Linked DNA regions of Homo sapiens: region 1 is reported to be linked to region 2. Evidence: microRNA targets listed by miRTarBase, many of them from high-throughput screens and not tested one by one. Region 2 holds a microRNA gene; the other region holds the end of a gene's coding sequence.

Region 1 (4,404 bases), not on the chromosome of region 2:
CCCAGGCTAGTCTCAAACTCCTGGGCTCAAGCAGTTCTTGCCTCAGCCTCCCAAATTGCTGGGATTACAGGCATGAGCCACCATGACTGGCCTAAAACAAAATAAATTCTTAATGGCATTTGTGGAATGTGTTTAAGAGCCAAAACTGTGAAAATGTAAGCTTTATCTTTCTTTTTTCCTAGATTATTTAAAGAGGATTGTAGCCACACTTCAGATGAATGTTTACAAGCCAAATAATGATTTAAGAGTGTGCTCAATAAAAAGGCCATAGGTTTAAGAATTAAATGGAATAATATAAATTACTAGGTCAACAAGAATATTTCATGTATAGTACACTGTCTAAGGAATGCAGAGAAATTTTACAAGAAACCCAAGACTAAATACTTCATTAAGAACACTGGTTACTAAGTAAATAGATGGCTCATGTAGGAAAAAGCTAATATATGTAGATGTAATGTCAACTAAGTGCATGTGACAGAAATGAAGAACTAGGAATAAGAATCCAGATTTTCTGGCCAGGCACGGTGGCTCACATCTGTAATCCTAGCACTTTGGGAGGCCATAGTGGGTGGATCACCTGAGGTCAGGAGTTTGAGACCAGCCTGGCCTACATGGCGAAACCCCATCTCTACTAAAGATACAAAAATTAGCTGGGCGTGGTGGTGGGCACTTATAATCCCAGCTACTCAGGAGGCTGAGGAAGGAGAATCGCTCGAACCTGGGGGTGGATGTTGCAGTGAGCCAAGGTCGCGCCACTTCACTCCAGCTTGGGCGAAAGAGCAAAACTCCATCTCAAAACAACAACCAAAAAGAATCCAGATTTTTAGGTGTCTAATACTAGACATTCTGTATCCAAGTTTCAGCCATTTCATCCAATAAAGCCTTCTAAAGCCTTTTTTTTTTGAGACAGGGTCTCACTCTGTCACTCAAGCTGGAGTGCAGTGGCGTGATCTTGGCTTACTGCAACCTGTCTCCCAGGCTCAAGCGATTCTCCTGCCTCAGCCTCCCGAGTAGCTAAGACTACAGGCCGTGTCACCAAACCCGGCTAATTTTTTGTAGGCACGGGGTTTCACCGTCTTGGCCAGGCTGGTCTCAACCTCCTGACCTCAAGTGATCCACCTGCCCCAGCCTCCCAAAGTGCTGGGATTACAGGCATGAGTCACTGCGCCCAGCTCCCAAAGCCAATTTTCAATTATTTGTGAGCCATAGATTCAGTGACTACATCAATATCTCTTGCCAGGGATTGGCCTAACAGCTCAGAGAACAGATTGTTAGGATATATGGGCAAGCCTTCTAAGTTCAAGAGGCAAGAGCAGAAAATGGAATGCTATAGGGATTTAGCTCCATCTTAAGCCATTCTGGCCCTTTCTGCTCTACTTTACCAGCTATAGAGTTAGGAAGGCTTCCAGTAGGCCACAGCAAGAGGAAAAACCTTTATTCTGTGGGGCTCATTTATCCAGGATTTAACTTACCTGTGTCATGTTACCGATCTATTAACACAAGTAATTTAGAGTTGGTTATATTATTTCAAGAAATTGAGCACAAAGCCAGGATGTACAAGGAGGAATTCAAACAATCAATATTGGATTATATAATGAAAAGATGCCCTTACAATGTTTATGATCTAGAATGTAATCATAATAAAGGGGGGAAAATACCTTATGAGTATCACAATTGTATCAGAGACTATTAAACAGTACAATGATACAGAGAATTTATTCAATTCATACAAGTAATTTACCAGATCTAAACAGTGAATAGACTGACCTAAGGGGAAAAAAATCCTTACATTGATAGCAAAATATCTTCTAGCCCCCATAAATAATCTGCAATCATTTGCTAGGAAAAAAACTTCATAACCATATGGGTCATGCAGACATTTTTATTTATTTATTTATTTTGAGACAGAGTCTCGCTCTGTCGCCCTGATTGGAGTGCAGTGGCACGATCTCAGCTTACTGCAACCTCCGTCTCCCAGGTTCAAGCAATTTCCTGCCTCAGCTTCCCCAGTAGCTGGGATTATAGGCACACACCACCATGCCTGGCTAATTTTTGCATTTTTAGTAGAGATAAGGTTTCACCATGTTGGTCAGGCTGGTCTCGAACTCCTGACCTCAGGTGATTCGCCTGCCTCGGCCTCCCAAAGTGCTGGGATTACAGGCGTGAGCCACCGTGCCCAGCCCATGCAGACATTTTTAAGTGCTATTGGTATTCACTTTATTTCAAACTGAGCAAAACAATACAACCTTTTACTTTTTTATACATTTTAAAATTTCTCTCATATTAACATTCCTTCCTACCCCAATCCATCCCATCACCAAACAGGAATGAGATAAGGAGTGAAAAAAAGATGTATGTTTCTCATTTTCCTTCTTTTCCCTTGAAGTAAACCAGTAATTTATTAAAATATTTTATAGGTCAGAGGATAACAAAAGACTCAATGTAGTAAATAAGTAAATAGGCATTCAAATATCAGTAACCTAACAGGCCCTAATACAGCTTTAAGATTTTCTTCTTTTTTTTTTTTTGAGAGGGAGTCTCGCTCTATTGCTTAGGCTGGAATGCAGTGGTGCGATCTTGGTTCACTGCAACCTCCACCTCCCGGGTTCAAGCAATTCTCCTGCTTTGGCCTCCTGAGTAGCTGGGATTACAGGCACATGCACCAACCCTGGCTAATTTTTCTGTATTTTTAGTAGAGACAGGGTTTCACCATGTTGGCCAGGCTGGTCTCGAACTCCTGACCTCAAGTGATCCACCCACCTCAGCCTCCCAAAGTGCTGGGATTACAGGTGTGAGCCACTGCACTGGCCTAAGATTTTCATTTTAACAGGGAACTGTTAGAACAGAAAAGAAGCTTCCCAAGAGGCACTCATTTTAAAAATAAATTATAGCTTAAATTATTACTATGTGGATTATATCAGCAAAGGCAGAAAGAATTAATGTTTTCCTCCTTTCATGAACCTTGTAAGGCTAGTGTTGAGTGGCTTACAAATGTCATATAATGGACTGTAAATCATCTGCCATATTGATCAATCATGTTTATTTAAGGTTTTCTTAACATTAGAGATTTTTAATGGGAGTATAAAATTAGTAAACAACCATTTCATTTTTTCTCTCTTCCTATTCTAGCCACATAAGCCAGTTTAATCCATGACACAGATTTCAGCTGTAATTTGCAAAACAATCCAAGAGCTACCACAGTCCCCAAAACTACAGAAAACTGCCATCCACAAATAAACTACCAAGGTAAATGTAAATACAGCGTGGTTCTAATTTTCTTTCACACAATCCCAGACAACCCCAAATAACTTTATAAATACCTTATGAAAAAAAGCAATTTAAAAACCTATCAAATCTATTTAAAATATATAAATGCAGACCTCTCAAATTTCCTTCAATCAGGCCAGAAATTATCACAAAAATTATAATCACAGTTACAAACAGAATGAGTGGAATGTTTGTAAGTTTAGGACAACCAAAAAAGCCCCATGTAACTTTTTAAAAATATAATCATTCACTCAAATATACTGTAAATAGGAATGGCAGTAACACAGGAAGCAAAAATAAACTTGCAAGTGAAATTTCTAGAAGCTCATGAAAACAATACCATCCCATATTGCAGATACAAAAGGAAAAACAGTTCTAATGGGGTTAAGAGTACTCTGGTCATCTTCGTTCGTTTGGTCGTGCAAGGTGTTAACTATTTTCACTTCCCATATCACAAAGTTAGTCCACAGGAGGAGCTGGTGGATCTTGTCCCTGGCATTAGAAAGAAATAAATTATTTAATTGACTTTTTAAAAATTCAAAAAAATTTAAAATTTATTACTTTTTTAAAAATTGACTTATTAAATCCCAGTGCAACCAATCTAACACATAGAGAAACAACTGAGCAGCAATGCCCCCAACCATCCCATCCCAAATATATGCTTATTTGGACTTTTCATATGTTTTTACATGAGGGAACACTAGATTAAATAACACTGTGATTTTCCACCATTTGTCTCATTTTTCCCTGTAGAATGGAAGAGAGAGGGAATTTGTACAACAGTGATGTTATCACTCCTGCCAACCCCAGGAGTGATCTTCAAACCTATGAAAATATCTTCATCCCTCTTGCTAAAGTCGATTGGCTAAGCAAAGTACTGTATATTTAAAATGAAGCTAGGGACTTTTGTTTCTCAATACTGAATGTCTACGAGGATGCATGTGGCTGCAGTTGCTTCTGGTAGTCATCCTATAACCCTAAGGGGAGCCCATCTTGGAATGAAGTTGTTAGTATGAGGAAAGAAACTAGGTCTTTGATGACACTGTTGAAACTTTCTTAACACTGACCCTACCTCTGAATTTTTTTGACGTGTAAATCAATGAAGCCACTTGTTTTAAACCACTTGGAATTGACTTT
Region 2 (4,404 bases):
AAACTTCTTCAAAGTACTTGATTTTCATAGGAATTTTGAAGAATATTATTAGAAATCATATTAATTTTTAAAAATCTAATTCTTATTATAAAGTAATGAGACTGTGCATAGCTTATGGTATCCTGCCAAGCATTTCACAACATTTGTTAAAATTGATTTGAAAAGAAATGTGGGGAGAGGGTTGATCTCCATATTACAAAGAGAAGCAATGTTGAGTAAAGGTTGAAGGTTTGGGCTCTGAAGTCAGAATATGGGTTTGAATCCCAGCCCTACCACTTACTAGCTTTGTAACCTTGAGCAAATTACCCCTTAGTGTCTACTTCTGGAAAATGGAAGTGTGCACCTAATAGGGTCCTTTAAAGGATTAAGTTGGTATATGCATGTGAGAGGCCTAAAATTGTGACTTGTACATAGTTGGCACTCAGCAGATGTTGGCATTTTTCTTAGTAAGGCAAGATAGAATGTTGCTACATGAAAGACTGGGGAATTTCTGACTGACAGCTGTGAATCCAAGTAGACAGAGCATGGATTTGACACCTTTTGTGAAGTGCCATAGGTGTTTGGACTCTGTATTCTTGGTACTTTCTGTCTCTATTGATGAAGAATGCAGCTGAAGGCCCACCCTAACCAGGAAGGCAAAGGCAGACATTCTACCCCGATCCCCCAGTAAAACACACCTCTGCCAGGGCTGCTCTCCCATCAACCAGTCACCCTGCAATCCCAAGGAAGATTCAGTTCCACAGCCAGCCCAGAGTTGAGGACCTTTTAACATTCTGCTCTTTGCCTTGTTTGATTATGTTAACAGAAATTCTCAGCCTGTGTGATTTGTCATATTTTAATATTTCAAGCCACCATTGCAGCTTCTTTTAGGTTTGGTTTGTCTGAGGCACCGCAGCGAGTGCATGAGCACACAGACTTTGAATTTGTATAAGTGAATGGCTCTTCCACTTACTTTGTGGCTTTGGGCTCATCACTTAACTCATTGATATAAAATGAGAATACCCACACTGTAAGGTCCTGGTAGCTATTAAAATTTTCTGAAGAACCCTGAAATCTCTTTGCAACAGATTTACAACTCACAGGGTACAATCTTGATAATTTTGATGATTTAGATGCAGTGCCTACATTTAGGAGCTTTGTTTCACCTGCTTCAATATGTATATCCTAGGATGGAATTCAGCTGATCCTGCATTTTCCAGTTTTCTGTTGTTGCATAACAAACCACCCAAAACTTAGTGGCATAAACAAACATGCTTACAAATTCTGTGGGTCAGGATTTTGACCAGGCACAGCAAGGATGGCTTATCTCTGCTTCATGATGTCCATGGCTTCATCAAGGGGCTACTCTGGGGGCTGAAATTATCTGGAAGTTTCTTGGTTCATGCCACAACTTGGGCTGGGATGACTTGGAAGACATGCTAAGCTGGGGAGCTGCCAACTAAGCACTGACTGTGGCCTCTCCATGTGTCTTGGACTTCTTACAGCTGCGTAGCTGACAGCTACCAAGAGTAAGCGTTCCAAGAGACAGGCATGTCCTTTTATGACCTAGCTTTAGGAGTCACGTAGTATCACTTTCTCTGTACTCCACTAGTAGAAGCCATCATAAGCCTACCCAGATTTAAGCAGTGGGGACAGGGGGACATGTAGACCCCACCTGCCAAAGGGTAGACCTGTTAAAGAATTTGTAGGAAATTTCTATAAAACCACTACACTAGGATTATGGCACCACACTGGGATTATGTTTCCATCTGGGGATAAATTAGGGCCGCTGGCTTCTACCTATAGCAAAGCAGGCCATACAGACTCTTGCAGCTACTTAATCTGCCATTGTAAAATGAAAGCAGCCGTAAACAATATGTAAACAAATGATCATGTTCCAATAAATATTAACAGTAAAATTAGAATTTCATGTAACTACTAAATATTAAAAATATTCTCCTTTAAAAAACATTTAAAAGTGTAAGAATCATTCTTAGCTCATGGCCTATGTAGAAAGAGGCAGTGGACCAGATTGGAATATCTTGAGTTTAGCTAGATCTGACTCTTCAAAGTTAGAATCCTCCAAATGTGTAGAAGAAACCCTTGGGTATTTCTCAAGTGGAATTAAGAGTGTGTGTGTGAGAGAGAAGGACATATGACTACAAATTTTGTTTTTATTTTAAAGTGAATTTGTGAAGATATTTCAAAATTTAGTTCTTTTAATTACATCTTATGTTCATTATGTTACAAAACATTTATTCCCAAGGGCAATAAAGGACTATGCACTTAATACTCCTATGTGGGAAATTAATGATATTTACTTTATCAGAAGTCAGGACCTACAAAGAAAAGGTAGAACTTGCTTCTTGATGGAGCTTCCAGAAATACATATTGTTGTATATTTTAAAAATAAGTATGTTTTAAAAGAGTTGATTATTAGAACAGAAGATAAGGTTGATGACTCTCAGGAATGAATTTTTAAAATCTTTATCACTTCATTAAATATTTTTTCTATGTCTATAATGCCAGGCAGTGTGCTAGAGCCTGAAGATACAGTGGTGAACAAAAACATATATCGTATGTTATCTTTTAACATCTGGCTATCTCACGAGACTGTATGTCCTAACAGTGCTTGTAGTCTCATGAGATAGCCAGATGTTAAAAAAAAAAAACAGCATCAAATTTAATGTGTGTTATGAGATGGCTTATGCAGGGCATTATGAGAATATAAGGTTTTCAAGCTGGGCCTATTGCTCTGACACCCTCTACTGCCCACTGAATGTGAAAGTCTAGGAAAAGAGGGTTGTTAGATTAGTTGCAAGCTGCTGTTTAAAAACCACGTTAACACGTTTGATAATGAGTGAATAGTCCTCTCTCCATATCTAGGCCACGTGTGATGGCCTGTTTAATATTGCTTTGGGGAAGGAAAAACAAAGAATGAAAAAAATTGCAGTTGTTGAAATGTACAGGATTTTTTTTCCCTGATAAGTTATCATTTTGGATGGGTGGAGAATTCAAATAGAAGAACAGTTTGGAACCTATTGACTGAATTACAAATTGGGATAATTTACTGATTTTTCTCTCAATCAAAGTTTTTCTGGGTGACAAAATCATTTGTACAGCAAACCCTAGTAACGTGCAATTTATCCATGTAACAAATGTGCTCATGTACCCCCGAACCTAAAATAAAAATTGGAAAAGAAAAAATAAATTGGTCAGAATCATACCCAAGAATAGCCCTTAAATAAAACATCTGGTTAATAATTATTTGACTGCAATCAGAGGATACTGCTAAAGATTTTTAGAGGACCCCTGAAAGGGTTATATTAATATCCTTAATAAAATGTGAATTTTTTGCTTAAAAAGTGATTTTCCAACACCTGTTAAAAAAGCAATCAATCGAGGTTTCAAGGTTTCTCATCTGGGCCATTAGTGGCATTTGAACCAGATAATTCTTGGTTTTGGGGTGCTGTCCTGTGCATTGTAGGATGTTTAGGAGAATCCCTGGCCTCTATCTATCTACTTTGCAGCATTCTCCACCAAGTTGTGACAATCAAAATTTTCTCCAAATGTCCCCTGAGGGTGGCAAAACCAACAGTTGTCTAAATTAAACTGGGTTTATATGTTTTAATTCAATGACCTCAATGAGGAAAACCTACTTTATTTTAATAGTAAGAAGTCTAGGTCAGGGAGTATTGTGAGTCATTTTGTACATTTCCAAGACCCACAACTCCTCCTTTGAAAATGATAAAATGAATTTGGACAACCCATTATCCAATTAAACATTATACTCATATCCCTTTGTTATGTCTGGAAGTTTTTCTAAACTTTATAGTTTATATAATTTCTAGCAAGGCTGAGAACCTCAGTTATTTAATTGAGACCCTGAAAGCTATAGAATATCCCTGGAACAAAATCAAGATTTAAAATTGGCTTGAAAATAACAAATGAAGATATTTTGATTTGACTCCATGTTCTCAGCCTGGAAGCTATTGGATTGTGTGAGACGCATGACCCAAAGGAGATGATTAGTTTTCCTCCAGTGTGATGATAATGAATAGCACTACAAAACCAATTAGCTATAATTCTATCAGTCATTTCCTTTGGGTAACATTTTGTTTAAAGGGAAGAAAAAACAACACAGTTTTCCTTGGAGATCTTTGATGAAGCTGTGGTATTTGATGGGAACAATGGAGGAAAAAGCAGTATGCTTACCAATTTGCTTTTATTATTCCTGCATGAAAGTAAATCATGATGAAGTGTTCTGTTCACAGCAGTTAAGAAAGACATTTGTTCATCTTAAAGGTGTAGCAGACCAAACACAAGTATATTTCTAAGTGTGCATTTCATTTATATGGATTGTACAACTCCAAGGAATTGCCATTCACATGGAAGACTGAGAATGGTGTCCCCTGGGACTGTGTA

The links. Region 2 holds the annotated microRNA hsa-miR-4794 (UCUGGCUAUCUCACGAGACUGU, at 2,575-2,596, shown strand). A microRNA usually pairs through its seed, bases 2 to 8, with sites in the 3' UTR of a target mRNA and lowers its output. Matches are read on the target gene's strand: a 7mer-m8 pairs with bases 2 to 8, a 7mer-A1 pairs with bases 2 to 7 and ends in A, and an 8mer does both.
Region 1: the mRNA of SMIM14 is a reported target of hsa-miR-4794. Seed matches in the 3' UTR shown: 7mer-m8 at 2,669-2,675 and 7mer-m8 at 2,042-2,048.

The regions. Positions count from the first base shown.
Region 1 is chr4:39,548,400-39,552,803 of GRCh38, forward strand. It overlaps SMIM14 (small integral membrane protein 14), which reads right to left. Exons shown (of 5, transcript NM_174921.3): 5 at 1-3,759. The coding sequence ends at 3,727. The region is part of intron 2 of UGDH-AS1 (UGDH antisense RNA 1); the gene reads left to right. Among named protein-coding and RNA genes, the nearest start is that of UGDH-AS1, 23 kb to the left of the region's middle.
Region 2 is chr1:64,577,281-64,581,684 of GRCh38, forward strand. It overlaps MIR4794 (microRNA 4794), which reads left to right and starts at 2,567; the gene lies at 2,567-2,643. All of the region lies in intron 2 of CACHD1 (cache domain containing 1), which reads left to right. It overlaps LOC124904195 (a long non-coding RNA gene), which reads left to right. Exons shown (of 2, transcript XR_007066150.1): 2 at 1-2,564.